6 separate regions of the Homo sapiens genome follow, and all the other regions are reported to be linked to region 5. Evidence: microRNA targets listed by miRTarBase, many of them from high-throughput screens and not tested one by one. Region 5 holds a microRNA gene; each other region holds the end of a gene's coding sequence. Distances are from middle to middle.

The links. The annotated mature microRNA hsa-miR-192-5p reads CUGACCUAUGAAUUGACAGCC and lies in region 5 at 2,232-2,252, opposite strand. An mRNA with a match to its seed (bases 2 to 7 or 8) in the 3' UTR can be bound and repressed. Matches are read on the target gene's strand: a 7mer-m8 pairs with bases 2 to 8, a 7mer-A1 pairs with bases 2 to 7 and ends in A, and an 8mer does both.
Region 1: miRTarBase lists TMTC4 as a target of hsa-miR-192-5p. The part of its 3' UTR that is shown has no 7-base or 8-base seed match.
Region 2: miRTarBase lists AGL as a target of hsa-miR-192-5p. The part of its 3' UTR that is shown has no 7-base or 8-base seed match.
Region 3: the mRNA of EHBP1L1 is a reported target of hsa-miR-192-5p. The part of its 3' UTR that is shown has no 7-base or 8-base seed match.
Region 4: the mRNA of ANAPC10 is a reported target of hsa-miR-192-5p. Seed matches in the 3' UTR shown: 8mer at 4,264-4,271.
Region 6: miRTarBase lists STXBP4 as a target of hsa-miR-192-5p. Seed matches in the 3' UTR shown: 8mer at 3,603-3,610.

What each region holds. Positions count from the first base shown.
Region 1 is chr13:100,600,682-100,605,755 of GRCh38, reverse strand. It overlaps TMTC4 (transmembrane O-mannosyltransferase targeting cadherins 4), which reads left to right. Exons shown (of 19, transcript NM_032813.5): 19 at 614-2,131. The coding sequence ends at 762. Among named protein-coding and RNA genes, the nearest start is that of GGACT, 14 kb to the right of the region's middle.
Region 2 is chr1:99,920,767-99,925,840 of GRCh38, forward strand. AGL (amylo-alpha-1,6-glucosidase and 4-alpha-glucanotransferase) reads left to right here. Exons shown (of 34, transcript NM_000642.3): 34 at 768-3,254. The coding sequence ends at 885. LOC124904230 (a long non-coding RNA gene) reads right to left here. Exons shown (of 7, transcript XR_007066251.1): 6 at 3,472-3,614. Among named protein-coding and RNA genes, the nearest start is that of SLC35A3, 47 kb to the right of the region's middle.
Region 3 is chr11:65,591,411-65,596,484 of GRCh38, reverse strand. EHBP1L1 (EH domain binding protein 1 like 1) reads right to left here. Exons shown (of 19, transcript NM_001099409.3): 17 at 4,612-4,685; 18 at 4,395-4,509; 19 at 3,835-4,282. The coding sequence ends at 4,183. It overlaps KCNK7 (potassium two pore domain channel subfamily K member 7), which reads left to right and starts at 685. Exons shown (of 3, transcript NM_033347.2): 1 at 685-1,031; 2 at 2,611-3,009; 3 at 3,275-3,649. The coding sequence starts at 713. The coding sequence ends at 3,480.
Region 4 is chr4:144,990,681-144,995,740 of GRCh38, forward strand. It overlaps ANAPC10 (anaphase promoting complex subunit 10), which reads right to left. Exons shown (of 5, transcript NM_001256706.2): 5 at 3,896-4,923. The coding sequence ends at 4,693. Among named protein-coding and RNA genes, the nearest start is that of ANAPC10, 100 kb to the right of the region's middle.
Region 5 is chr11:64,888,972-64,894,045 of GRCh38, forward strand. MIR192 (microRNA 192) reads right to left here and starts at 2,275; the gene lies at 2,166-2,275. MIR194-2HG (MIR194-2 host gene) reads right to left here and starts at 4,478. Exons shown (of 3, transcript NR_133640.1): 1 at 4,440-4,478; 2 at 3,619-3,855; 3 at 1-369. It overlaps MIR194-2 (microRNA 194-2), which reads right to left and starts at 2,468; the gene lies at 2,384-2,468.
Region 6 is chr17:55,159,461-55,164,534 of GRCh38, forward strand. It overlaps STXBP4 (syntaxin binding protein 4), which reads left to right. Exons shown (of 18, transcript NM_178509.6): 18 at 337-5,074. The coding sequence ends at 451. Among named protein-coding and RNA genes, the nearest start is that of HLF, 100 kb to the right of the region's middle.

The DNA of each region.
Region 1 (5,074 bases), not on the chromosome of region 5:
ACAAAAGCCAAAAAGCGTCCACAGATGCTCTTCTGCCCATATAGAAAGTTAATTTTACTAACAAAATCACTGTCATGATCAGAGGCTAATCATCCTAATGATTAGGTTTACTGTAACTATCATTTTAGGGTCAGCTCTTGATATCAGAGGCCTTTTTTCTAAATGGACCCAAACAAGCTATTACTTCCCCAAATGGTGTAAGGAAATATTTAAAATAAACAGCTGAACTTCTGCATAGTCAGGGCTCTGGGCAGTGCCTAGCATCCATCACCCCCACCTCCCATACCCAGCCTTGCTTCCTGGAAATTTCATGGCAGCACTAAGACATTGCATGTACTCTTCTTTTTGCTTCTTTATGTAATAATGTTACTATAGGCAGATGTATCTTATCTAGTGCTATGAAGAGCCCTAGGAGTAACTGGCAGTAAATGGATAATCATCAGGGAGTGTGATTACAATAAATAGAGTTTTCAGTACAAACAATATTGTTTCATACAATTGACTTTTGAAAACTGTTTGCATAGGATCTGTAATATTTCTTTGTCCAAGAGGGTAGGAATACGGCACGTTACTCAGAAGCATTCCCAGTGAAATTTATCTCCTGCTATTTCAGCTGTGCTTTATCATCGTTGGGGACATCTAGACTTGGCCAAGAAACACTATGAAATCTCCTTGCAGCTTGACCCCACGGCATCAGGAACTAAGGAGAATTACGGTCTGCTGAGAAGAAAGCTAGAACTAATGCAAAAGAAAGCTGTCTGATCCTGTTTCCTTCATGTTTTGAGTTTGAGTGTGTGTGTGCATGAGGCATATCATTAATAGTATGTGGTTACATTTAACCATTTAAAAGTCTTAGACATGTTATTTTACTGATTTTTTTCTATGAAAACAAAGACATGCAAAAAGATTATAGCACCAGCAATATACTCTTGAATGCGTGATATGATTTTTCATTGAAATTGTATTTTTTCAGACAACTCAAATGTAATTCTAAAATTCCAAAAATGTCTTTTTTAATTAAACAGAAAAAGAGAAAAAATTATCTTGAGCAACTTTTAGTAGAATTGAGCTTACATTTGGGATCTGAGCCTTGTCGTGTATGGACTAGCACTATTAAACTTCAATTATGACCAAGAAAGGATACACTGGCCCCTACAATTTGTATAAATATTGAACATGTCTATATATTAGCATTTTTATTTAATGACAAAGCAAATTAAGTTTTTTTATCTCTTTTTTTTAAAACAACATACTGTGAACTTTGTAAGGAAATATTTATTTGTATTTTTATGTTTTGAATAGGGCAAATAATCGAATGAGGAATGGAAGTTTTAACATAGTATATCTATATGCTTTTCCCCATAGGAAGAAATTGACTCTTGCAGTTTTTGGATGCTCTGACTTGTGCAATTTCAATACACAGGAGATTATGTAATGTAATATTTTACATAAGCGGTTACTATCAATTGAAAGTTCAAGCCATGCTTTAGGCAAGAGCAGGCAGCCTCACATCTTTATTTTTGTTACATCCAAGGTGAAGAGGGCAACACATCTGTGTAAGCTGCTTTTTAGTGTGTTTATCTGAAGGCCGTTTTCCATTTTGCTTAATGTAACTACAGACATTATCCAGAAAATGCAAAATTTTCTATCAAATGGAGCCACATTCGGGGAATTCGTGGTATTTTTAAGAATTGAGTTGTTCCTGCTGTTTTTTATTTGATCCAAACAATGTTTTGTTTTGTTCTTCTCTGTATGCTGTTGACCTAATGATTTATGCAATCTCTGTAATTTCTTATGCAGTAAAATTACTACACAAACTAGCATGAAAATGTCATATTGCCTTCTTAATCAATTATTTTCAAGTAGTGAACTTTGTATCCTCCTTTACCTTAAAATGAAATCAAACTGACCAAATCATCATTTATGTGGCTTCTGTGTGACTTGGGGACCATTTCATAGAATGGCACTACAGTGTTTTCCAAGTTCAGAGAACAGAGCGAGTAGATCCACACTGAGAGGAATGTGATTCTCTGGACTCACGTGTTGGGGGCAGGTCTGTGTAGTGTTTCAGTCAGTGATTGTAACTTCTGGTGTTTGAAATGTATCAAGAAATAAAGTGCTGTGTTTAAAATATTTCTTTTTTTTTTTTTGAGATGGAGTCTTGCTCTGTCTCCCAGGCTGGAGTGCAGTGGCACCATCTCAGCTCACTGCAACCTCCGCCTCCCAGGTTCAAGCGATCCTCCTGCCTCAGCCTCCCGAGTAGCTGGGATTACAGGCGTGCACCAACATGCCCGGCTAATTTTTGTATTTTTAGTAGAGACGGGGTTTCACCACGTTGGTCAGGCTGGTCTCGAACTCCTGACCTCAAGTGATTCACCCACTTCGTCTTCCCAAAGTGCTGGGATTACAGGTATAAGCCACCATAACCAGCCTTCAAATATTTCTTAAATGGTCCCAAAACAACAGTAGTAATTTATAGCTCTCTTTAGTGGCTAAGACCATCTTCCTCTTATTTATGTTCCTATAGTGCTTCACTTGTCATACAATAGATGCATTATATGCTTTGTTGATTTTTTTTTTAAAGCAAACTTCTTTTTTTGAAACAGTACTTGTCTATTGAGAGTAATCACAAAATGATGTTTCTTACAAAAGCCCCTTCAGGATCCTTCTTTTTTCCTACCGATTCTAAAACTAGTGCCAAATCAAGTTGTGCAAATCTGGACCCCTGCCTACCGACAAATTCCCTCAGCCTTCACTGCTTCAGCTTCCAGCATTTCCATCGTAGCTGTTTTCTTTCCAGGGAACACAGTGATTAATTTGATTGATATTTCAGGAAGTCTTTGATCTGTGCAGATTTTGGAAGCATAACACACTGGCTCCCTTTTCTTCTTTTTCCATCTTAAGGCAGCCACCCTCTTTGTTTCTTCGGTTTCCTTTCAAACAAGACTGAAGTGGAAGGCCGCCTCGCAGTTCTTCTCTTATTTGGAGTCTTTTACTATTTTAATGTTTTTATTGCTAATGACAGTTGGGAGGCAGGTGTCAAAACAAACATGGGGAAGTCACAAGTTGGAGAAATCTCATCATCTCTTCCTTGATAGCGAACATCAACAAATCTGGAAAGAGGCTTGGAGCTGGGTGTTGGTTTGTTGGGTGGTTTAACATATGTAGCACATGTGAAAATGCAGCACTTCTTCCCTGTTCTTGTTTGGATTTTTACAAATTTAAATGCAGGCTTAACATTTGTTTCTCTCCGAGTTCATCCTGTCAGATGTAGCCTACAGGCCTTGACAGGACCCCTTGAGGTTCTCATTCTGTCACATTGCTTACAGATGTTCTTTCTCCTTTTTTTTTTCTTTTTCTTTTTCTTTTTTTTTTTTTTTTTTGAGACAGGGTCTCACTCTGTCATCCAGGCTGGAGAGCAGTGGTGTGATCTTGGCTCACTGCAACCTCTGCCTCCCGGGTTCAAGTGATTCTCCCACCTCGGCCTGCTGAGTAGCTGGGACTACAGGCACGCACCACCATGCCTGGATAATTTTTATATTTTTTGTAGAGACAGGGTTTTGCCACATTGCCCAGGCTGGTCTTGAACTCCTGGGCTCAACTGACCCACCTGCCCTGGTCTCACAGTGCTGGGATTACAGGCGTGAGCCACTGTGCCAGGCCATTCTTCACATTTTATTTCAAATTATTGACAAAATATCGGAACAGAAGACTGAGCCCTCCACCAAAGCACTGGACATCTATGTCCATATTCACACCCAACCAGCCTGGACTTTGGGGTGAGAAAACCCAGACTTGGACCTGGGGCTCTCCCACTGCAGTATGATACGTAAGGCATTGAGCATTGCTCAGGCGCCAGTTTCCCATCTGTACGGTGGTGATAAGAAGATCCCTCATAGCCATAACGTAGGGAGCCCAGTAGACCCTCCATAGGTGATAGCTTGGACTTTTGAAAGAGGGGCTCTGTTGGGAGTACACAGATCCGGCCTTAGATACCTTTATTCCCCATTCACTCAACACATACTAAGTGCTATGTACCAGATACTTTCTTAGGCTGTCTGAATACTAAGGTGGGTGGAAGAGGACACGGTCTCTTGCCCTCAGCAGTGGACAGTCCAGTGAGAGAAAACAAATGATCAAAGAGTCACATGAATAGTAGCTGAGGAGGGAGGCCTGCTCTAACCTGGAGAGTCAAGAAAGTGCTCCCTGGGAAGGTGGCTTCCGGATGGAGATTGACAGGCAGAGGGGAGGAAGATCACTCCAGGCTGGCTGTTCTCAACCAGGGGAGATGTCACCCTTGGGGGCGGGGGGCATTTGGCAAGGCCTGGGGATATTTTTGATTGTTAAAACTGATTGGAAAGTGACAGGGGAGAGAGAGGCTGCTGCTGTACATGCAATATTCACAGGACAACCCCCTACAAAAATCAACTGGCCTAAAACATCAGTAGTCCCAAGGTTGAGAAAACGTGGACCACACAGAAGCAACAGCATCTGCAAAGGCCCTGCTGCGGGAAAGCTGAAGTCTGAGGAGGCCGGGGAGGGTGCTTGAGAAGGCTGGCCTTGGTGATAAGCCAGCTCATACAGGGTTCACAGACCACGTGGTGCTTACTTAAACTGGGGGAGAATCCAAAGCAGGTCAGTGACATGATCCAAGTTAGTGAGGTTTTGACAAGGTCACTTGGCTGCTGGTGAGAAGAGAATTGGAGAGAGGCTAAGGATATAAGCAGAGAAGCCAAGAGACCATCCCAGGTGTCAGCGTCGAAATGAAGGTGGCTCTATGCAGCCAGGTGGCAGTGGGGCTGGAGAAATGTGGACAGTTTAGAGTAATGATAAGGAGTCAATCAACTAGTCATGGGCAGGAGGTGGGTGGTGTGGGAATGAGAGGCACTAAATAAAATTCGGCGCAGAAGCCACTGAGGGAGAAGCTGGCCTTAAACTGGAGAGAGAAGGTTCTTGAGAAGAAACAAGATAGGGCCCCAAATCAGGTAGAGTTTGGCCCTACAAAAGAGGAAATAAGGCTCCTGTATGTATGTTAAGAGGTCCAGATGGGAACAGATGTAGGCACCTCTGCACA
Region 2 (5,074 bases), not on the chromosome of region 5:
CCACAACCCAACTTAAAAATGAAACATTACAGATGTCTGTACTTTTTGAATTTGTTTTCATTTTTAAGGGATTACATTGAAATTAACAATAAATTTGATGTGCTAACATCACTGTGTTCTGATAAGGAGGGCTGGAACAAGTTATTTAACCTCTATAAATCTCTCTTACCTCTCTATAGATAGGAATACTTATGGTACCTTCCTTACAGGGTTACTGTGAACATTAAATGAGATAATATACATAAAAGCAGTATTAGAACATAAATGCATAATAAATACCAAGTTTATTATTCAGTAGAAAGAGAAATTAATTGGCATTTTTTTCTTTAAGTAGAAAGTATTCTGGAATGCCATTTTTCCGCCTAATCATAGTTCTTAGTGTTTCTTCATTACTTTTACTTTTACAGTTTTATCAAGATCACACATAACACATCTGCATAATTACAATTTGAGTCTCATAAACAAAATTATGCCTGAGAGAGTATTTATCTCTATGTTTATATGTAGCTTGTAATGGTAGTTTCTTCTATGTTTTTAATACATAAAGGGATTCCTTGTATTTAAAAGTCTCAAATTCCAAAGATGGAATGTCAAAGAATAATTTCAGTCTAAATTCATTTGTATGTCTTTAGGATATTGTTTTATTTTGTAGCAAATGACTACATATGATTATTTTCTACACTAGAAGGCAAAAATCACCAGGTCTTGCCTATTTTGTTAATATGAATTAAATTATGTCTTTGTAAAATGTCTTTTCTTTCATTCAGATCCCCTTGGAAAGGACTTCCAGAACTGACCAATGAGAATGCCCAGTACTGTCCTTTCAGCTGTGAAACACAAGCCTGGTCAATTGCTACTATTCTTGAGACACTTTATGATTTATAGTTTATTACAGATATTAAGTATGCAATTACTTGTATTATAGGATGCAAGGTCATCATATGTAAATGCCTTATATGCACAGGCTCAAGTTGTTTTAAAAATCTCATTTATTATAATATTGATGCTCAATTAGGTAAGATTGTAAAAGCATTGATTTTTTTTAATGTACAGAGGTAGATTTCAATTTGAATCAGAAAGAAATATCATTACCAATGAAATGTGTTTGAGTTCAGTAAGAATTATTCAAATGCCTAGAAATCCATAGTTTGGAAAAGAAAAATCATGTCATCTTCTATTTGTACAGAAATGAAAATAAAATATGAAAATAATGAAAGAAATGAAAAGATAGCTTTTAATTGTGGTATATATAATCTTCAGTAACAATACATACTGAATACGCTGTGGTTCATTAATATTAACACCACGTACTATAGTATTCTTAATACAGTGCTCACTGCATTTAATAAATATTTAATAAATGATGAATGATAGAAGTTTCCATCTACAATATATGTTCCTAAATGGAGCACAGATGTTCAAACTATGCTTTCATTTTTTCACTGATATATTAATTTTTGTGTAATGAATGCCAACAGTATATTTTATATGATTTACTTATGTGAGGAAACATGCAAAGCATTAGGAAATTTATTTCCTAAAAACAGTTTTGTAAAATTAGTATTGAGTTCTATTGAGTATTATAAGATAGCTTACATTTTCAAAATGGAAATTGTCGGTCATATTTCTAGAACTTTAAAGAAAAAAGAATGTTATATTAGTTTTCTAAAACTCAACTATCTTTAGTCATGTTCAAAAATCTATTGCTAGATCATAGTAGATACTGGTTTTCTATTAACTCAAAACCTACATTGACAAGTTTAACATTGAGAAGAATCTTAACAAAAATATGGATATGAATTCAGTAGATATCTTAAATTCAATAAAATCACTGGAAGTTTTTCATGATAACTTATTTTAAGATGCCTTAAAAATCTTAAAGTCACAAAAGGAAAAAGGTTTTTAACATTTACATGAGTTAACATTTTTTCATAGAACTTATTTCCTAGATAGAATTTTTTACTGTTTTTTACTGTTTTCTTAAGAAAACAGTTAAATCATTATGCATTCAGTTGGAAGAAAGTAGTGGCAAGAATTCTTTCATTGCTATATAATATTCAGTGGCTCATTTATACCTAATAAAATAATGGTATTTTAAAATAATGCTACTTTCAAAGTAGCATTTTTTTAGTTAGTTTACAGGTTACATACCCAAAACCTTAACTATGACTAAGAAATTAAAGAAGAAAACCAGCAAACTAAAACTTCTGGGCAGCAAAAATATATAAATGCTTCAGATGTCAAATACCCATGCTTGAAAGCTCGTGTAATTTACTTTAAGATTATCTGCCTGCTCTTCTTCAAAGCTGACCTTGCTTTAGAAATAGTTTTAACTAGCTTAGTTTTCTGGTTTCCAAAACTAAAATAGATTAAATCCTACAAATTTAAGGACAGTTGTGACAGTAATCTGACCACTATCTATAAATACATTGGACATTGGTTTCCAAATCTCCCTTTCTTCTTCAGTTCCTTCCTTGTTCAATATATACCCTTCTCTAAACTGTGCGGGTAAAAGGAATGACTGTCCTTGAGAGAACCATTAGTTTATCAAAGGTTTATGTAGTTTTGTTGCTGTACCCTAACTTTGATATTCAGGGAGGTAGGAAAGGTAACAGAAAACCAGCATATTTAATCAAAGCAAGAAGTAATCGCTGACAGTTAAATGTGACCAAAAAAATTAAAAGTTCACAATTTTTTTAATGTAGCCATTTGGGGTTATCTCTAGTAAGGCAGATACCCACGTTGGTAAATTTTTAGGATATTGTGTTGCACTAGAAAACTAAGTGGTTCATATTTCTAATGAGGAAGATTAATGAAAGAACATTGTTATATTCTGCGTGGTATATTTTAAAGTTTAAGAAGGCATGTTAAACATTATTTCCTCTATGGTAGTTAAAATACAGAATTAGATTTTTAACAGGTGTCATTTGACTAAACGTTTCGGTAGAATGCTTCATACTTGAGTGATGCTGGATAAGGTATTGTATTTCAACAATGGACTATGCCTTGGTTTTTCACTAATCAAAATCAAAATTACTCTTTAACATGATAAATGAATTTACCAGTTTAGTATGCTGTGGTATTTTAATAAGTTTTCAAAGATAATTGGGAAAACATGAGACTGGTCATATTGATGAATATTGTAACATGTGAATTGTGATCCATTTCTGATATGTCTTGAACTACTGTGTCTAGTGGGCAAATGTCATTGTTACCTCTGTGTGTTAAGAAAATAAAAATATTTTCTAAAGGTCTGTATTTTGCTTTCATTCATAGTCATTGCACCCAGCTAATTTTTTATTTTTTACTTATTTTTTATTTTGTAGAGACAGGATTCTACACTATGTTCCCTAGGTTGGTCTCAGCCTCCTGGCCTCAAGTGATCCTCCTGCCTCAGCCTCCTAGAGGCAATTAATTTGTCAGTGCTGACCAGAGTCATTTATTCAGTGCTTGCCTACTTTAGGTGCTTACCTTTTTGCAGGAGGCAGAGAGGAGGAAGAATTTTAGACTGTTTTGATTATTTATTTCATTAGGCATGTTGAAATTAGGAGCAAAATCAACTTCCAATGTATAAATCTGTTAGAAACTATACACTTCTGGTGACAATGGGCCTCCTGGAAAAATAAAAATAATTTTTTTAAAATAAATAAAAATAAGCTGCACACTTTCCTGGTACTTCTTGAAACCTTTTACTCAAGTGTGAATTTTTAATTTACCTTTGATCAACTTACAGTAAACACTACAGGCCAGAAGACATATATACGTTGCCTCCTAAAGTAGCCAAAATTTTTTTACTTTTCATTGTATTACTGAATAATATACATATTTATAGAAAAGCATCTAATGACCAAAGTTGATCAGTTTGGTCTTTGCCTTAGTTTCTGTTGGTTTCTTTTTACTGCAGATATGCATATCTTCATCTTCAGATAAAAGATATTAACCTAAAAATCCAAACCTGTAACTACCACAGCAAACTTGCCAAAATTACTTACATAGAACCTCAATGTGCCAATATAATAAACTCATGGAATTTGCTTAGTAGTTGTTGGTTCCCTCCCCCAACCCCCCCAATTTGTATGAGCCTTGAATTATAGAGTAGTGCTAATACTTTGTCATTCTGGCTGTAGTTATTTTGGTTAGAGCAGGGGTTTTGTTTTTGTTTTTTTAAAGAGTCTTGCTTTGCTGCCCAAGCCTGATGACAGACAGCTCATTACAGCCTCAACCTCCTGGGCTCAAACTACCCTCCCACCTCAGCATCCCAAGTAGCTAGGATGACAGGCGTACAACTACTGCACCCACCTAACTTTTGCATTTCTTTTTTTGTAGAGATGGGGGTCCACACTGTGTTGTCTAGGCTGGTCTCAACCTCCTGGGCTCAAACTACCCTCCCACCTCAGCATCCCAAGTAGCTAGGATGACAGGCGTACAACTACTGCACCCACCTAACTTTTGCAATTCTTTTTTTGTAGAGATGGGGGTCCACACTGTGTTGTCTAGGCTTGGTCTCAACCTCATGGGCTCAAGCAATCCTCCCACCTCAGCCTCCCAAAGTGCTGATTATATAGGCGTGACCATTTCTGGCCAGCTTTTTTCTTTAATCAGATCTTTCAGCACTTGCCTCCACGTTTGTAATCTCTACTGTCTCCTCAAAATTTACATCAGTCTCAATAATAACCATTGTTTCTATTTCCAGTTTTATTTTTTTTATAAGTGCATGTGGTATGAGATGAGACATTACTTAGGCTTTTTTTTCCAAATTGTTAAATCCCAAACTTATAAGTTGAATATGATTTATGGGAAGTCCTTTTTTAATCTTGCATTATTCTTTACTAGTAGGGTCTACTTCTAGAATATACTGTTTTCTGTGCCCATTCACCTATTTCACTATTACAGTTTTTGTTTTAATATTTGTTAGAGCATTTTGTCACCACGTTTTTCTCTCATCGGTTCCCTCGTCTTCTTTTTCAGAATCTTATTTATTCCCACCTATTCTTTGTATGTATTTTTCCAAATCCAAAAAGTATTCTCAGCATTTTTACTAAACAAGCCCTCATACTATTAATTTGATAACAAC
Region 3 (5,074 bases), 700 kb from region 5:
CGCCTACAGTAGCCCAGCGTAGGTCTCCCTGGACCACATTTATCCTCAAGGGCCTGTGTCCTTATCCCCCCTTCACCCCCAACTCTCCCCTGCCACAGCCAGCCCTCTGTTCCTCTCACACCCCAAGCTCATTCCTACCTTCACTGGCCTCTTACTCCCCAGCTGAAATATCACCTCCTTAGCAGAGCTTTCCCAGTGAGATAACCCCCCCGCTCCCCGCAGAGCTCTCCCATCACCCAGGGTGTTTCCTTCATGGAACTCATGACAATGTGAGGTTGCCATGTTTCTTTGCTAAGAGGTTTCTTGTGTAAACACCAGGAAGGAAAGGACCTGTGCCTGTCCTCTTCCCTAAGCACTTGAATGAATGAATGAATGAATGAATGTGGTATGGGTGCCTGAGTGAGCAGGACCTTGAATAAGTGTGAGGTCCTCTCTAGGCTTCAGCTTCCTCCGCCTCCTCCCCTCACCGCAGCCGCCTTCCTCCACCCATCCCCACCATCCCAGCTGCTGTGAAATGGGCAAATGTCTTGCCTCCAGGACCTGGGAAGGGTGATGCAGCTCACCTCCCTCCTGTTCACACCCCAGCCACCCCAGCCATCCCAGCCGGGTCCCAGCCACCCACACAGCACCTCCTCCTGGCCCCGCCCTGCCCAGCCCCTCCCAGGTGCCTGAGGTGGAGCCGCCAGTTCCCACAGCACCCCAGCGGCCTGCCATGGGGGGTCTAAGGCCCTGGTCCCGATACGGGCTCCTGGTTGTGGCCCACTTGCTGGCCCTGGGGCTTGGGGCTGTGGTGTTCCAGGCCCTGGAGGGGCCTCCTGCATGCAGGCTTCAGGCTGAGCTCAGGGCAGAGCTGGCAGCCTTCCAGGCAGAGCATAGGGCCTGCCTGCCACCCGGAGCTCTGGAAGAGCTGCTGGGCACTGCCCTGGCCACCCAGGCCCATGGGGTCTCCACCCTGGGCAACAGCTCAGAGGGCAGGACCTGGGACCTTCCCTCAGCCCTGCTCTTCGCTGCCAGCATCCTCACCACCACAGGTAAGAGAGCCAGGCAGCCAAGTCGGGGGGTGCGGCTCCAAGAGGCCATGGCTCCCTGGGGGCTTTGGGGTTCATGCAGCCCTTCCTTCAGCCCCAAAGAGCCAGATGGAGCCCAGGCCCTGTGAGGCCTGACATCACAGCTGGGGCTCCCCACCAACACACCCCAACTGGTGCCTCCACTTCAACTGCCAGGAAGGGTGTGGCCTCCCCAGTCCCACCCCAGGCACCCTTTGAGACCCAGGAGAGCTGCCCAGATGCCACAGCCTGTGGCCAGATAGGGGATACAATACAGTGGGATGGATTCTTGGATGGAAGCAAATAGAATGAACCTGGGAAGGACAGATCAGGACCATGGCCTCGGGTGGGGGAGTGAGGGAAGATAGGGGAGGAAGTCGGCATGAGATGCTTGTGGATCAGGAGGGCACAGACAGGGATGAGGGAGTCCTGCAGAGAAATCGCGTGGGCACAGGCCCAGGGAAAAGCAGCAATGAGACCCACAGCCCTGGGTTTTCGTATTTTTTGCCCCACAAAGTGTCTCAGTATTTTTTGAATTGGAATTTGTATTTCCAACTTTTTTTTTTTTTGAAACGGTGTCTGACCCTGTCACCCAGGCTGGGGTGCGGTGGTGCGATCTTGGCTCACTGCAACCTCCACCTCCCGGGTTCTAGCAATTCTCCTGCCTCAGCCTCCTGAGTAGCTGGGACTACAGGCATGCACCACCATGCCCGGCTAATTTTTGTGTTTTTAGTAGAGACGGGGTTTTGCCATGTTGGCCAGGCTGTTCTCAAACTCCTGACCTCAAGTGATCCACCTGCCTCAGCCTCCCAAAGTGTTGGGATTACAGGTGTGAGCCACTGTGCCCAGCTCATATTTCCAACTTCTTTTGGAAAATCAGGAAACCCACTCACACTGAGCCAGAATCCCTGCAAGGCAACATCCTGACTGGAGCAGAATGGGGCCTGCCCTTTGGATACAGCTCACACTTTCCAGTGTACCCCTGTCCCCACCACTCCTGTTTGTCTCCCATCTGGCTCCGGTAGGCATGTGCGTTTGCAGCTCTGTATTAGCTGATCCTGTTCTCCCAGCACACCCCGCACTCCCACCCCTCCCCGCCTGGCACATGCCCTCTCTCGCCCATGCTGCCTCTTTGCAGCCCTTCATGATTTGCCTGCCCGACTCCCCCACCAGAAGGGGCAGGGCCTGGGCTGATTCAGATCCCAGTACAAAGCCTGGCACACAGGACATGACACACATTTGGGGAAAGAGTGGATGATATTCCACCAGCTGTGGAATCGGGAGTATCTGTTAAGGGCAGCGCAGTTCTCAGAATTGTCCCAGCTACAAAAGGCCTGAGGAACTGTCTTCTTTCATCCTTTCATTTTCCAAAAAAGAAAAGAATGGCCTAGAGAGGGTAAGGGATCCCCTGACGAAGAGGAGCAGAGCCAGCTAGAACCTGGGCCTGGCCAGTTCAAGGCCACCAGAGGGCAGCCTTCTGCGGAAGGCAGTATTGGGGTAGGCAGGGACCCCAGCAGACATGGCACTCAGAGCTCTCACTGTCCACTGACTCTCTCTTCTCCAGGTTATGGCCACATGGCCCCACTATCGCCAGGCGGAAAGGCCTTCTGCATGGTCTATGCAGCCCTGGGGCTGCCAGCCTCCTTAGCTCTCGTGGCCACCCTGCGCCATTGCCTGCTGCCTGTGCTCAGCCGCCCACGTGCCTGGGTAGCGGTCCACTGGCAGCTGTCACCGGCCAGGGCTGCGCTGCTGCAGGCAGTTGCACTGGGACTGCTGGTGGCCAGCAGCTTTGTGCTGCTGCCAGCGCTGGTGCTGTGGGGCCTTCAGGGCGACTGCAGCCTGCTGGGGGCCGTCTACTTCTGCTTCAGCTCGCTCAGCACCATTGGCCTGGAGGACTTGCTGCCCGGCCGCGGCCGCAGCCTGCACCCCGTGATTTACCACCTGGGCCAGCTCGCACTTCTTGGTAAGTCCAGCCACCTAACAGCGTGTGGGGGAAGGGGGAAGAGGAGCCTGGACTAGGACTCCCATAAATCACTGGGGGGCTGGGCCTTGCAGGTGGAGGGACCTCACTCCAGGGCACGGCGTGGGAGGGGTAGTCGAAGAGCTCTGGTGGCAGCGTTGAGAAGGGGGTGAGTGGTGCCAGTTGCCAGGGCAAGTCACTGCGCTGGGAGGTGGGCGGGGAGCATCACCAGAACCCAGGCGCTGCCCCAGCACCTTCTCCTCCCCAGGTTACTTGCTTCTAGGACTCTTGGCCATGCTGCTGGCAGTGGAGACCTTCTCTGAGCTGCCGCAGGTCCGTGCCATGGGGAAGTTCTTCAGACCCAGTGGTCCTGTGACTGCTGAGGACCAAGGTGGCATCCTAGGGCAGGATGAACTGGCTCTGAGCACCCTGCCGCCCGCGGCCCCAGCTTCAGGACAAGCCCCTGCTTGCTGAAGCGTCAGGTGACCGAGTTCAGCTCCGTAAGGTGGCGGCACCTGAGGAGGAAGCAGCCAGGAGTGGCTGGGGAAGAATCTGGAGATGGAGCCGCGGTGAGGGTGGGCGGGAGGCCTCAGAGGATACTGTTAATCATAAAATGAGCAACGACTTCGGCTATTTTCAACTATTTCGAATGGGACTTCCCTGAGCCACCGGCCACCATCCCGGGAAGGCCGAGGTCCAGCCTCCGCTGGCCCTGGGAACCTCGAAACCGCACCTTCCGGCTTAGGATGGCAGAGCCGCCCGCCTCAGCCTCGGCGCACTCCCCTCCGCCTATTGAGAGCCCAGGTGGAGCGGAGAAAAGGCCGGCGCTGGGGTAGTCTCGTCCAACTTTATTGCTCTGGAGAACAGGAGGGCAAGCCAGCGCGGGGCGGTAGTGCCCAGGCATCCCTCTCCCCGAGGCCGCCGGCCCGGCCGTGCCGTCGGGGAGGACCCCGCACCCGCCGCGAGCGCGCACACACCCTCGGTGACAAATAAATACGGCGGCCGCCCCGCCCGTGGGGTCGGGGATCCGCCCTGCCCTGTACGGGGAAGGGCGCCGGCGGCCCCTAGCGGACACGCGCGCGGCCTCCGGGACGGCCGGGTCGTCCGCAGCGCAGGCCCGGGGCGGCGGCGGACGCCGGGGACGCGAGAAGTTATGGGCCACCCGGGCCGGCGGCCTCAGCTCAGCACGCAGCGCTCCCGCCGGCTCAACTGCCGGCTCAGCTTGCGGCGCCGCTGTTCCAGGCCGCGCTCCAGGCGCTCGTCCTCCTCCAGGGCGCTGGGGAGAACGGGTTCGAGTCAGCGCTCCGTTGGGCGGGGTCCACACGCAGCCCTCTGCGGGAGCAAGTCCCGGACCCTCCCAACTCCCAGCGCCGCCCAGCGCCACTCACATCCGCTCCTTGTGGTCCAGGTCCCGGACTAGCTCATCGCGCTGGTTCACCAGCGACACCAGCTCCTCCAGTAGGAGCTGCTCTCGGTGCTGCTGAGCGGACGTTTTCTGCCAGTCTGAGGGTCGAAGCGGCTAAGCGTCAGGAGGCGCGGGCCCAGGGCTGTGCCGCCTCCACCCTGGCTCTGTCTTGCCTCCCGGCCCCTGAGCCCATGTCCCACCTTCGATGGCCAGCATGGCCCGCAGCTCGCGGCTCAGCAGCTCGAACCTTCGCTCCAAGTCCTGCTCCTCCATGCTGGAAGGTGGCGGGGGGTGGGTGGCGGGGGGGTGGCAGTTCAGGAAAAGGGGCGTAGGGAGAGAGTGCCCAGGGCTCTGGCCACTCCCTGACCCCATCCCACCTCCCCAGCAGTTCCCGAGGGCAGGGCTGACCGCAGAGCTATCCTCTAGTCTCCAGACCACATTATCGCTTTTCTTCTGTTTTCTCCAATTGCTGGGTGTTTGTGTTGCTCCTCCCACACACCCCCCAGAAGGACCCCCGAAGGATTATTTGGATGAACAGTACTCATAAACAGGAAGCACTGGCTACAGTTATTCTGAAAAATCCCAAACGCAAAAGGGAGGCAAAGCTGTCTCCACCCTGCAGGATGACAAAGGCAATGGCCGCAGAGTGGCTTCGGACCCCAC
Region 4 (5,060 bases), not on the chromosome of region 5:
GCCATTCCTGAGGAATCCGCCCCCATGATCCAAATACCTCCCACCAGGCTCCACCTCCAACACTGGGGATTATGTTTCAACATGAAATTTGGAGGTAAAAAACATCCAAACCATATCAGTAGTCAATCAGCTTTCCCATCATCTTGGATTCCCTTGCAAGAGACCTGTACCTGCCTTAACACACAGGAAGCATCATGACTGCCTGAAGGTATAAATATCTGTGAGGACAAGCAGAGACAAACTAGGGAGGTAGGACTACCATCCCCAGCCCTGGAAACTCTGCTCTGTAACTCAGCCAAAGGAGATGCCACATCAGAGTGGCTGTTCAGCAGCACCATGCTGTTATGTTCCACAGGTCCCTTGGGCACAAACCACTACCTGCCTTCCCACACTGCCAGAATAATCCTTTTGGGAATTCCCCCATTCAAGACAGGCAGCACTCTAATAATTTAGTAGAGCAGAGGAGAACCTGGGCTTAAGGAACCACAGAGACAAAAAGGAGGCATCAACCTAATGGTAAAGATTTGCTAAGAGCAAGGTGAAGCAGGAAGTGCTGGTGGAGAAGCTGCAGCAAGTTATCCAGAAGATCTAGAACAAGCTTGTCCAATTCGCAGGCCACAGGCTGCATATGGCCCAGGATGGCTTTGAATGCAGCTCAATAAAAATTTGTAAACTTTCTTAAAACACAAAGAGTTTTTTTGCATTTTTTTTTTTTTGAGACGAGTCTCATTCTGTCACCCAGGTTGGAGTGCAGTGTCGCGATCTCGGCTCACTGCAAGCTCCGTCTCCTGCGTTCACACCATTCTCCTGCCTCAGCCTCCCAAGTAGCTGGGACTACAGGCACCCGCCACCACGCCCGGCTAATTTTTTATGTTTTTAGTAGAGATGGGGTTTCACCATGTTAGCAGGATGGTCTCGATCTCCTGACCTTGTGATCCACCCGCCTCGGCATCCCAAAGTGCTGGGATTAGAGGAGTGAGCTACCATGCCCGGCCAGGAATTTTTTTTTTTTTTTTTTTTTTAGCTCATCAGCTATCGTTAGTGTATTCTATGCGAGGTCCAAGACAATTATTGTTCTTCCAATGTGACCCAGGAAAGCCAAAAGATTGAACACCCCAATCTAGAACATAAGGGATGAAGGTGGCTACACTAAACAATAGATTTTTCCATGTAGATGAACAACCTTCTATTGGAAGATGATGCCACCTTGGATTTTCATAGCTAGAGGAAAGTCAATGCCTGGCTTCAAAGTTTCAAGGAAGAGAATAACTCTTGTTAGCAGCTAATGCAGCTGGTGACTTTAAGTTGAAGCCAATGCTTATTTACCATTCTGAAAATCCTAGGGCCCTGAAGAATTATGCTAAACCTACTCTGCCTGTGCTCTGCCTGTGGAACAACAAAGCCTGGATGACAGTACCACTGTTTAGAGCATAATTTACTGCATGATTTAAGCCCTCTGTTGAGATCCACTGCTTGGAAAAAAGATTCTTTCAAAATATTACTTATCATTGCCAATATACCTGGTCACTCAAGAGCTCTGATGGAGAGTTATGTTGTTTTCATGCCTGCTAACACAACATCCATTCTGTAGCCCATGAACCAAGCAGTCATTCTGACTTTCAAGTCTTATTGTTTCAGAAATACATTTCATAAGGCATTAGCAGGTAAGTGATTCTTCTGATGGATCTCAGCAAAACAAACGGAGAACTTTCTGGAAAGGATTTACCACTCTAGATGCCGTAAGAACATTCATGATTTAAGGGAGAAGGTCAAAATAGCAACTTTAACAGGAGTTTGGAAGGAATTGATTTCAACCTTCATGGATGACATTGAGGGGTTTACGACTTCAGTGGAAAAAGTAATGGCACATGTGGTAGAAATAGCAAGAGAACAAGAATTAGAAATGGAGCCTAAAAATGTGTCTGAATGGCTGCAATCTTATAAAACTTGGATGACTGTAGAGCTGCTTCTCGTGGATGAGGAATAAAATTGGTTTTTTGAAATGGAACCTATTCCTGGTGAAGATACTGTGCACATTGTTGAAATGACAACAAAGGACTTAGAAGAGTATATCAACTTAGTTGATAAAGCAATAGCAGGACTTGAGAGGATTGACTCCAATTTTGAAAGAAGTTCTATTGTGAGTAAAATGCTATCAAACTGCATCACATGCTACAGAGAAATCTTTTGTGAAAAGTCTATCAATGAAGCAAAGTTCATTGCTGTCCTATTTTAAGAAATTGCCACAGCCCTGTCAGCATTCAACAACCACCACCCTGATAAGTCAGCAGCCATCAACACCTAGATGAGACTCTCCACCTGCATAGAGGTTACAACTTGGCTAAAGCTTCAGATTATTGTTAGCACTTAGCAATAGTATTTTAAAATAAAGGTATACATACATTGTTTTTTTTTAGACTACAACAGTGTAAACAATTTTATAAGCACTGGGAAACCAAAACGTTTCTGTGACCCACTTTATTGTGATAGTCACTTTACTGTGGTATTCACTTCATTGTGTGGTGGTCTGGAATTGAACCTGCAGCATCTCTGAGATATGCCTGTACCAGCAGTGCGAAGTGCATTTTCTCCACATTGTTGTCAACACGTGGAATAATCATTTTCACTGTAGTCATTCTAGTGGCTGTGTAGTAGTATCTCATTGTGGTTTTAATTTGCTCTTCACTAGTGTCTAATGAAGTTGAGCATCTTTTTGTACAATTACTTGCCAATCATATAACTTCCTTGGTAAAGTGACTGTTCAAATATTTTGCTCATTTTTAAATTGGATTTTTCTCCTTACTGTTGAGTTGTAAGGGATTTTTATATATTCTAAATATAAATCTTGGTCAAATATATAATTTGCACTTTAGAAAGTAAAATGCAACTGTTTTAGATAATTATGCTTTGTTAATATAATGCATTATCTGTATTTTAAATTTTTCTTATTAAGGGGAAGCATTATCTTCATAATCCTCAGCTACCAAGTTTTCCCACACCTAATAAGATAGCCAGCTGGCATATGAAAAATACGTAAGGAGAATAAAAGTAGAAAACATATTGATTTTCTCAACTCCTTCTAATACCTCCTGATTTTAGGAGTCTCTTGGCAAACTATTAATAAATAGTAGGAGATAAGACACTAGATAGTATATGTGATCATTAGTCTTCCTCCTTTTTTCTTTTAAGCAAACTTAATAAATAAGCAGTCAGTAAGAAGTAACATTATTAATAAAACTTCCTGTACTTTTAAAAAAATTAGATTTCTTTTATCTCTAAGACTAAGACCCTGTTGTTTACTTGACTGTTTTCCTTATCAGACTAAAGGAAAACATCAGTGCCTAGTGTATATTTCTATTCTTATTTCCTTCATTCTCTCCATTTCCTTTAGTCCTTATTCTTGGTCTTCTCCTTCAATCCTCTCTTCTACCCTACCCAGCATCTGACAAGTATAATGTGCTTAATTTGGTGATTCCAAATAAGTTTTGGCTACAGACTTTTTGGTGATCCCACAGATTGCCTATCATGCTTTTTACTTCAAAGACAACAAAATGAAAGTAATAATACAATTCTTCCCAGAACTTACAGGAAGAAGAGCAGAGTTTTTAATGAGTGAAAAAGTGAAACCATTTTCTATAGTATCCAAATAAATTAGTACTCTCTGCCAGAATAAAGCAAACACACTATTTTTTAAATAATATTCACTATTTAATACTTTAGTGTACCCAGCAATGCATGAACCACAGAGAGCAATCTTTTCCAAACAAGAGTGAATCTAGGTAAATTCTGTGGCTAAATAACCATCCCCCGAAAAAAAGTAATACATCTAGAGAAAACAGCATACAAAATCAAATCTACTCATTTTAAACCATGGAAAAAACCACATTTCCATGTATTTCTTTAAAATCTTTTAATATATATAAAAAATTTCACATACTTTTACGATTTTATGGGATATATGACTGCCCAGGGAATGCTACAATGTCAGACACAAATTTGAAAATAACTCTTCCATAAGTACTGCTAGAACTCTTCCATAAGTACTGCTAGATTATACAGGCAATCTTTACATAATATCATTAGGATACAGACAACCCTAGGGCTGTAAGTATTCCGTGAAGGTGAATATGAGACAATTAATTATACTCCCCATATTAGATTGGTTCTCATCAGACAACCTAACACTAAGCTTATTTGACACTGTTTTTTAAAAGATCCAGTATTAAAAGAATAACCTTCCTCTGGGTAGAAAAAATAGTAATTTTGACCTATTAAAGATGATATATATTGATAAAACACAGTCTTGTTCTCAAATATGCAATAAACCATTACTCTAATGTATGAACACTAATGAAATAATCACCTAGCTATTATAATTGTGTATATACTGAAATTTTCAGTTCAACTCTTTTCTTTTGATACAAGGAACTCTTTTCTTTTGATACAAGGGAAAATAAAATGATTGGCTTCAAATCCATTTTTAGTAATGTAAAATATGTGAGCTTTATTACATGTTAAAGAAAATAAAGATAATATGACCCCAAATTTATTTGTCAAAGTTACAATAAAATATTTTTAAACATATACAAAATTAGATATAACGGATGCCTTGTTCAATAAAGGTACATGATATATTATTTAAATACAGGATAAAACAAAGATACGTTTAATGATTTTCGTCTCATTTTAAAGTCACCTTATTGAACGATACATCATGAAATCTATAGTTGTACATCTAGGAAATTTACCAATGGAGCTCTCTTCTACTGGTGTGTATATTTTAATTTGTCTCATATGGGTGTCTCTTCCATTCTGGTGATTGGCTAGAACAGCAATCTGTATCATGAATGTACGAGTTGGCTTCTTATGATTGTCAGTTAAGGGAACATGAATCCAGCCACTTGGTTCCACCAACTCAAGTTGCTGCCAAGGGAAAAAAAATCAGATTATGCTTTTATTCAACAAATATAATTTATAACAATGAATGCATTCTATAATAAAATAACTTATAATTAACATTTTGCTCAACGAAAGAATGACAATATGATAATAATCACTAC
Region 5 (5,074 bases):
AGTCTGAGGCCTGACAGCCCCAAGAGGGTTAGAGTCCAGGGCCCTACCATCCAGCCCATGTATCCTGAACACCTACTATGCTGGTGGGTGGGGGAAGCAGCCAGGGAGGATGAGTAAGTCATGGACCTTGCCCTCAAGGAGTCTGAAACTAGCACAGGATTAGATAAGCACACAGGGCTCCTTAACTCTGTAGGGAATGAGATAAGGGTGGCGGGAGAGGCCCACGAAGCCGGGGTGTGGGCAGAGAGGGGAGCAGCGCCTGCAGAGTCATGGGATGGTCTGCAGGGAGGGGTTGCTGAGCTGGGCCACGGCAGGGGCCAATCGGGGCCCAGGGATTCAGAGCAGCCAGGACAGTGTGAGCAGAGCTGCCTGTGGGAAGGGGAGAGAGACAGTGTCTTAGGGGCCAGATGTTTGTTGGCTGCCTACAGTCCCCAGGAGAAGGTCCAACTTGCTCTGTGACTTCAGCAAATGTGCACCCTCTCTGAGCCTGTGTCCTCCTGTCCCAAACAGGTTCATGATGGATGCCAGGAGGACCAGGTCCTGGATGTGCGTGCCCAGCAGACAGAAAGGGCTCAATAGCCAACGCCTGTTATTAAGCAATTTGACATTTATTCCTAGGTCTCTATTTCCCATTTTACAAATTTTATTTTGTAGTACCAGAAACCTTTTTATTCAAATGAAAAATTCTGACAGGGCACAGTGGCTCATGCCTGTAATCCCAGCAGTTTGGGGGGCTGAGGCAGGACTGCTTGAGGCCAGGAATTTGAGACCAGCCTGGGCAACATGGTGAAACCCCATCTCTACGAAAAATACAAAAATTAACCAGGCATGGTGGCACGTGCCTGTAGTCACAGCTATTTGGGAGGCTGAGATGGGAGGACTGTGTGAGCCCTGGCAGGTGGAGGCTGCAGCAAGCTGTGATTGTACCACTGCGCTCCAGCCTGGGTGACAAAGCGAGCAAGACCCTGTCTCAAAAAAAAAAAAAAAAAAAAAGGAAAATTTCCTCAGAACCCCGTTGTATAAGAAACAGGTGGGGCTGGGCGCGGTGGCTCACACCTATAATCCCGGCACTCTGGGAGGCCGAGGTGGGCAGATTATCTGAGGTCAGGAGTTCGAGACCAGCCTGGCCAACATGGTGAAACCCAGTCTCTACTAAAAACACAAAAATTAGCTGGGCATGGTGGTGCATGCCTGTAATCTCAGCTATTTGGGAGGCTGAGGCAGGAGAATCGCTTGAACCCAGGAGGCAGAGGTTGCAGTGAGCTGAGATCATGCCAGGAGGGGAGGCTTCCTCCTGGGAGGAAGCCTGTTGCATTCCAGCCTGGGCAACAGAGCAAGACTCTGTCTCAAAACAAACAAACAAACACCACAAAGAAATAGGTGGAAATGAGGCTGTTGTGGGAGGCGGGACAGGGGTGGGGTCAGCTGTCCTGTCCTGGGTTGGCTGCTCTTCCTCTACCAGCAGCTGGGGTCCTGGGCCCTCTTAGGAATCCTAGGGGCTGGAGAAGCTGCTCCACCAACCACAGGGCTGTGCTCCAGGGAGATGAGACTGGCAAAGGAGGGGAGAGTAGGAAGCAGATGGGGAGGCTGGCTCAGGGCCCCATCCTGGGTGGGGGGGCTCCAGCACAAACACTGGGCCTAGAGCACTCAGCCCCCCTTGGCCACACTGCATGTCGGTGGGTGCTTCCTCAGGGTGCAAGACAGAGGCTCAGGATTGGTTCAGCAAACATTTATTGGGCACGCGCCTGGGCTGGGAACTGAGCTCACAGATGGGGAGAGGAGCGAGACATAAGCAGAAACCAGCACCGGGGCTCCGAGAGGGCAGTGCTCTGCGGCAGCACTGTGTGGGGGTGCCCAGGTGGGGACTTAGAAGCTTCAATAAGGCCTTCTGGAGGCAGCAAATGCTTGGACAGAGCTTGAAAGGGTTAGTAAGAGTGAGCCTGGCAAATAAGCTAGGAAGAGTATTGCAGCCCAAGGGAACAGCATGGGCAAAGCATAGAGGTGCCACAGGGCAGGCAGGGCAGGGGCAGGACTGAAGCTGTTCAGGCTCATTCACGGGGAATGAGACAGAGGGAGGTGGGACCATGAGTGCTGCACTGGGGTCGCAGGATCTCTGCTGACTGCTGGACACCCCCGGCCCTCCCCTATCCCTGCAGGTCCTGGTGGCTGGCATTGAGGCGAACATACCTGTGACCTATGGAATTGGCAGCCAGAGGGGAGACGAGAGCACTGGCTGTCAATTCATAGGTCAGAGCCCTGTGCACTCGGTCTCGGCAGCCCACCGACAGCCCTCCACTACCCGCCACCATCTGGCCTGGGAGCGTCGCCACGGTAGTCCTGGCTGGTCTGCTGGCCAGCACCTGCCTCTCCTTCTTCGTGGGTACTGGCCCTCGCCCCAGATAACAGCAGCCCCACTGGAACCAGTGGGCACTTCCACATGGAGTTGCTGTTACAGGGGGCGGGAACCAATTGGAGACCGGGGCCCTGCCTGGCGTCCGCCTTCGGCAGGGCTCTGGAGAGTGTCCCATGCCCACTCACCTGGGCTCCCCAGTCTTCGTGGCCCCAGGTCCATGGTCTTTTCACCGAGGCTTCTTATCATCCGGGGCCCACACCTGGCGCCCCGTGTGCTGCCAGCACTCCTTCCTGGGCAAAGTCCAGGCTCAACCCCAAATCGGCCTCATAAAGCCGGGAGCGGCTCGGATTTACAACTCCTGGGCAGCCTTTGCCCGCTCTGATGACCCCACGCCCTCTGTCCCCAAGTTATTTTGTTTCCTTGTTTCTTTCCCAACCAGAGCTGGGCCTCAGTTTCAGGTTTGGCCACTGTCACCTCTGCCCTTTGCCCACCCTCCCTGCTGCAGCCATGGGGCAGAGAGACAGCAAGGGACAGCTGGCACTTGTCAGTCCCCAGGGACCTCCCAGTGCCTGATTTCATGAGGATGGCCTCGTATGGGAAGCTGAAGATGAGACTAAGAAGAAGTGTGGGGGGCTGTGTGGGGGAGGGCACAGAAAGAGGGATAGTGAGGCAGAGGGGCTGAGAGAGGAAGAGAAGAGTAAGGCCGAGGATGGCGGTGCACACCTGGCATCCCAGCACTTTGGGAGACCAAGGTGGGAGGATCTCTTGAGCCCAGGAGTGCAAGACCAGCCTGGGCAACACAGTGAGACCCCATCTCTACAAAAAATAAAAAATTAGCCTGGTGTGGTGATGCATGCCTGTGGTCCCAGCTACTCAAGAGGCTGAGGCGGGGGATCACTTGAGCCTGGGAGGTCGAGGCTCCAGTGAGCTGGGATTGTGCCACTGCACTCCAGCCTCAGTGACAAAGAAAGACCCTGTCTCAAATAAAAATAAGAGGAGCAGGTAGAGAACTAGAAAGGAACAGAGAAAACAAACAGGGATAGTGGATGACGAGGTGTAGGAAGGGGGACGACAGGGAACTGGAAAAGATGTAGATACACAAACCTGCCGCAGAACATGAGGAACAGGCTGTGAGCAGTGGCTCGCCTGGAAGGACGCTTAGGACCTCAGTGGCCTGGAAGACAGCAGGGGCCTGGGAGCTGGGTGACCTTGAGCAAGTAGCGTAACCTCTCTGAACCACTGTCCATATGTCAATCAGGACTTACGAGGCCACCCTGCACGCTGGGCTGGCCTGGTGGGAAGCATCCGCCCTGGGACCCTTGGGTCTCTCTCCGCTGTGGGGAGAGGAAGCAGCTGCTGGCCAGGGTCCCTGAGTGAGCCCAGGGCTCTGTGAGGCAGAGCTTCCTCTTGCAAAGCGTGTTCTCGTCCCTCCCAGACAGGTTCCGGTGACAGGTGCCAGTCCTGCAGAGACCCAGCAGGCATTTTGGGAGACTCCAAAGCTTCTGGAGAGAAAGGGGAGCTTTTAGAGTAGACTTGGGCCCTGCCCCCTTTGCCAGTGGTGCATACAGGCCTAGAGAGACAGAGGGGGCCGCCCAAGGTCACAGAGCAGGGCCCCAGGGCCTGTGCTGCCCCAACAACCTTCCCGAAGTGGCGTCCCCCCTTCTCAGGATGCAGTCAGGGTGGGATGGGGGATCCCTGGGCTGGAATCCTTCTGCCTGGGGGGACAGACCTGCGAAGGAAGACACCGTAGCTGGTGGCTGGCCCTCCACTCAGCCTGGCGGCCCTTCCCACAGAGGCCTGGGCGAGACCAGCCTCCTGCAGCGTGGTGTCCAAGTGCCCTGGCCTGGCAGAGACAGCGCCCGATCAGGAATCCTGGCTCCACAGCTCTGAGCGCTGATGCTAAGGCCCCCTTATCCCACAGTGGAAACCAAGGCACAGAGAGGAAGGGGCTCGTCCCGGCCACCCCATGGCTGTCCAGGTCCCTTTCTTCCTCAGGATTGGCCACCCTTCAGAGAGGTGCCTGGGTTCAGGAGCCTCCTAGGACAGGGAGGGCGGCAGGGGTCCTACCACTCAGGAAGCCTCTTACCTGAGTGCCGGGCTGGCCTTCGGGGCACAAGGAGGAAGTGGGGACACCCTGGGCCCAGGGCCTTTTGAGCCGTTGACCCAGCCCCTGGTGGTGGTTAATGATTATCCCACCACCGTCAATACTGATCACAAGTGCGGTTCGAAGGGCAGGAAGCCCTGGACTGTGCCCGGGCAGGGTGGGGCGGGTCCAGGAAGCATCAGGCTGGGCCCCATCTGCCTCTCCGGGTGGCATCAGCACCGAGTCTCCACAGCCCTGTCTCCTCCAGGGCCTCGCCCTCCTGGTCTCTTACCAGCCTGCTGCCCCAGCTGTCCGTGGGCAGCCAGGACCCCAGGGTCCCTCGGGACAAAGCTTCTGCTCTGTTCCCAGTACCCAGATCTCCCCCACTCAGAAGGGGCCACAGAGCAGGGCTGGGGGACCTTTGCTAACCCCAGAGGCCTGCGGAACCTAGCAAGGTGAGGGTTCCCTGATTCCCAACCCGAGCCTTGGTTTCCCCATGGACCCACCCACCTCTGTGCAGCGCCACTGGGAAGCAGGGCAGGGAGGAGCGCGATGGGAGCAGCTCACAAGAAACAAGATGTGTGGGGGGCAATGGGCGCTCCCTGGTCCTGTGTAAAGCTTTGTGCAGTGAGGGTTGG
Region 6 (5,074 bases), not on the chromosome of region 5:
CATTGAAAAAGGAGAGCAAGAAACAGATTCCAGAGATGTTACAGCAAGGCAGTCATTGGACTTGCTGACTTACTGAATGTCAGATACTGAAACGAAAGGAGTTAGAGATGCTGCATTCACCTGCATTCCTTTTTAACCAAAGAAGAAAGAAAGAAATGGTTTTCATTGAAGCTTAAAATGTGTCTAAGACTTATTAAAGCTATTGGATCTAGTTCTAACTGCTTCCTATCACAGGGACTTTACTAGGGTAGAAGCAATGTCACCAGGATCAGTACTTGCATGGATGAGTAGAAGGACAGTCTTTCAGATTCTAATTGCATTCTTGTTCTTCTCAAGTCATGTAACACAGACTACATCCTGGATCCATCCCGTGATGAGTGTCCTGAATCTATCTCGCTCAGAGGAGAATGAAGAGGATTGCTCTAGAGAACTCCCCAACCAGAAAAGTTGATGGTTTTCCTTAGGAAGTGGAGCTACATGGATGATGTGAGCAGAGACGCATAACATCCAATTCTGAGATGAAACAGTCTAAAATAGGAGTAAAGCATGCACTACTTGTTGAAGTGTGAAATGGAGACTCTGGACTTTGGGTATTTTTGTAAAACTTTTGATATTTCTGTATACATTTAAAAAATCAATTGCCACTACAGTAGTTCCTTAAGAATAATCTAGTTATATTTTTTGAAATCACATATAATTAGACTTTATAATATATATACTTTTTCATATATAATTAGATCTTTCTTTGTAATTTCATATGTAGTTCTTCATAGGGTCTCAGATACAATGGTTTTTATAATTGACATATTGAAAAAGTATATGAACATAATGAAACACCTCATTTATTTGATAATTCACTAATGTTTTATATTCATATATTAGGAAAGTGAACTTAGCAAGCTTTTTGGAATTTAAGGATCACATTTAGACATCTCATGGGCTGATGAATACAGCTGGTATCTTTGTGGAGCTTTCTAATTTACAAAATGCTTTGTAGACCCCATTGTCTTTAAACCATACAACATGCCCGTGAAGCTGATCTGGTGGGTATGTTTATTCTTGGTTTTCAGTAGGGAAATAGCAGTTCAGAGAGAGGAAGCTCTCTGTCCCAGCACCGAGACTCACTCCTAAGTCTTCTGATTCCATGAGCAGTCCCCCTTCCCCCATACCCTGCTGTCTCCACGGAGGGAGGTCACAGCCCATCACGCAGGACACTGTGATTGTGTTGATGCAGCTGGCTCCACAGCTGTGCATTCCACAGAGATTCAGAAGGCACCTCTTCGGTCAAACATGGCCCCTCTATAACCCCACTATTCTTCTCCTATAAACCCTTCCCCCTTCTCTGCACCCAAGCCTTCGCCAAGTAGGCGCACTCTTTGTGATATTGTTTCAGCAGACTTCTTTCAGCAGCTCGTGTTTTTCTAAAGTGAAAGGCATGGTTTGTCCTGCTTAGGTTGCCCTTCCCAGAGGGATGGTTTGAGGGGAGCTGATGAGAAGAGAGGTATCTGTTAAAACATTACTGCTCTACTCGAAACAAGATGGAAGCCTAAAGCCCAAGTCGAGCAGCTCCCAGCACTGCTGTGCAGACCTAGAGGTCCTTAGAACATAGTCTAAGAACCATTCATTGTAGCCATTTTATAGTTGAGTAAACTGAGATCTTAAGTCTCCTAGTCTACTGAATTTCATATGGTGTATAATACAGATTTATATGGTAAAGATATACATATACATTGTGCTCAACTATACATTCCTGAATCCATTTAGGATTTGTGATTTATGTCTTGAGTAATAATATAAAGTCAACTCCAGACTGATAGGTAGTCATTAGCCATGAGAAATGTTTCAGGATGGCTAGGGAAGACTTGTGTTTTGCCTGACAGCCATTTGAATGTTAGGAAGCTTCGGGGAGACAAGTTTTGAGAGAAGCCCCAGAGGGAGCTATTTCCTTGCACCCCCCAGAGGTGAATGAGGTATTCTATAAGTTAGTGTCTATAATTGTGAAAGTACAAACTTCTTGTTTTTGTCAAATTAATGGTATGAAATTTCTCTCCCCCTGCTTGAAGAGTTTTCTAATTCGTTTCTAGTGAGCAAAACAAAGAAGGTGCTTGAGTCACTGAAATCAAAGTACTCAGGCACACAGCCCACTGACAAGAGACACCTCATCCATTAACTGCTGTTTTGTACCACTTGCCGCCCTGTTTCTGTCAAATACCTAGTGAAAAAGGCCTAAACAATTGTAATGATATTATTTATTGGGCATTTTGTGCCATACATGGTGATGAGCAGTTTGCATATATTTATTTATGATCTTCTTAAAACCATTCCATGAAATAGGAACTGTAATTATCCCCAATTCTAAAAGAAAAAACTTAGTTTTAGAGAGTTAGTAATCTTTGCCTAAGGGTCACAAAGCACCTATGTGTAGAAGCTAGGGTTCAAGGCAGATCTGTGATTCCAGAAGCTGTTCTCTAAACCACTATGGAGAACTGCTTAGATTCATTGTCTATGGGTACATTTTATAAAAAGGCAGATTCTAGTTCAGTGTCATAAGGAACTTTCTAGTAATTAGAGCTGATAAGAAAAGAATTCCCCAGGAGAAAATGGAAACACTATCCCAGCAATCTGAATTCCTTACTTGGGGAATGTTGCTGAGGAGGTTCAGTGTGTGAATGGACTGAACCAGTTGGCCACTCTCTCAGATTCCCTCTTCATAAAGCTTCCGTGACTTCTAAACCATCAGGTCGGTGCCATAAGAGATGCTCAAAAAAGCATGGTCAGGGCTTAGCAAGAATCCTTTTCCAGTGCAAATACGACCCTCATATTATGTTTTGGCGAGTAGCCAGTCTTTCTTTAACATCAATCAACCGTAGCAATGTGGTCATCACGAAGTCTTCATTGACTCACTGGCTTGGATTTTAGGGTTAGAAAATCTGAATGTTCTTATGTCCTTCCGTCTCACTTTACTAGAGTGCCCAAGTTGACTCATCCTTACTCACTCATTCCCTCAAAATATTTATTGAGCACCAACAATGTCACAAGCACTGTGCTAAACACTGTGGTGAAGTAGAACAATTGCTAATCATTTCCTGGGTTCCACTTACTCTTGATTTAAAAAAAAAAAAACAACAAAAGAGTTTGTGTGTGGCCAGGACTAAACAGCTGCTTCTTAATTTTTGAATTTTAAAACTAATCTATTTTATTTAAAAAAAATCAAGTACTTTGGAAGTGAATAAAGTAAGAGATAGCCTGTCTCACTTTCCAGAGGTAGCAGTCACTAATACTGTGGTGAGTGATTTTACTCAAAGGAAATCACACTATTAAGCAGCTTGGTTTTGACATGTTATGTTGTGGTCATCTTTTCATGTCAATACATAGATTAATCTTTTATTTCAAATGTCTACATAAAATATCACTACCCACATAACCTATAATTTGTGTGGCCAGCAATTTATTGAACACTAAAATGTTTTAAGTTTTCTTATTGCTAACAATGTCACAGTGAACATTTATATATTCATTAAATCCTTTTCCTCATGTATCTTTGCACTCTTGTGCTAGTATGTCTATAGTGTGAATACATTCATAAATTTCTTGATCAAAGCTAGGTCAAAGTTACATTCATTTTAATTTTGGTACATATCCATAAATTCTCCATAAAAGTAGGACCAACTTACATTACCACCAATAGTGTATGTGAGCCTTATTTTTATGTATGATAGGACTTTTTTTAGTCCAAATGTTCCTATAGATTTTCTGGGTTTTTTTTTTTTTTTTGTCCTTGGAAGAATAACCTTCCTTCCACCAAGTCCAAGAACCTGAGATTTTTAATCATTAGGTTTTAGATTTCCTTTAGCAGCAGAGACTGACTTGCTGTATAGAGGGAAGTCAAGTAGTGACTAACTCACTATATGTCAAACACATCATTACTCTTCTCTTTTCCTACTTTACATGTAATGGTTGCGAGGACCAACTTTCAAATGAGCTAACTTGGGTGAGACGTTCACTAAAGTACCAAGCACAATACAAATGCATCTTCGAGTTCTTTGGGCCTCACTTTCCCTATCTGAATAATAAGGATAGTAATCCCTTGCCTTTTCTCAAACCAGTTCAACTCAGCAAACACTTCCTGAGCACCTGCTACATGCCAGGCAAAATGTGAAATTTGCATGCTATGAGGCTAAATGGTACTGATTCTCAAAACAAGGAGCTCATAGTCTAAAACCATTTTTCTTTCTTTTTTTTCCCCCTAAACAACCTCTTAAAGGGGTAAGAAGTTAGGGGGTTGTTTATTAAGAACCCCTGAAGAGCAACCCTTTACCACTCTCTTAAATTTGAAAAATTCCAAAATAATATTAACACCTCTTGACTAGAAAAGGAAAAAAAAGGAACATGCCGTATGAAGAGCCTCTCCAATAATAAATGCAAAGCAGCTGTCAAAATATAGAGTCAAGTGATACTTTCATAAAGTGTTTGCACAATTAGAAAATGTTATCCTTTTTCTCGGGAGAAATGGGACATTTTTATTTTCTCTGCTAAGTGAAATGCAACTTTTTGAAGAATCAACACGCTTGACATTTTTACAATGTACATAAAGAACTGAACTATTATTAAAACAACTTACACACTCCATTGCTTATAACTTTTGAGAGAATGAAAAGAACCTTAAACAGAATGTGCCTGTGGAGCTTCGCTTTAGAAATGAAATACCCAAGGTGTTTTAACTACAACTGTCTACATGTAATAGTGTGTCTGCATAATGACTTTGTAAATATTAACTGCAATTCTGTATTTGCTTTCTTGATATGACTTTTAACATTTAAACTTATACTGTTTCTGTCTACTTTTTTCAAAAGTTCAATTTTTACTTTTGGGGGTTGGACTGTTCTGAGGGAAAGGGCGATCAGATCAATAGTTCTGTCCCCCATTCCATTCCCCCATCACCCAATTATTCTCTATATCACTCTACCCTGTTTATTTCTTTTTTTTTTTTTTTTTTTTTTTGAGACGGAGTCTCGCTCTGTCGCCCAGGCGGGACTGCGGACTGCAGCGGCGCAATCTCGGCTCACTGCAAGCT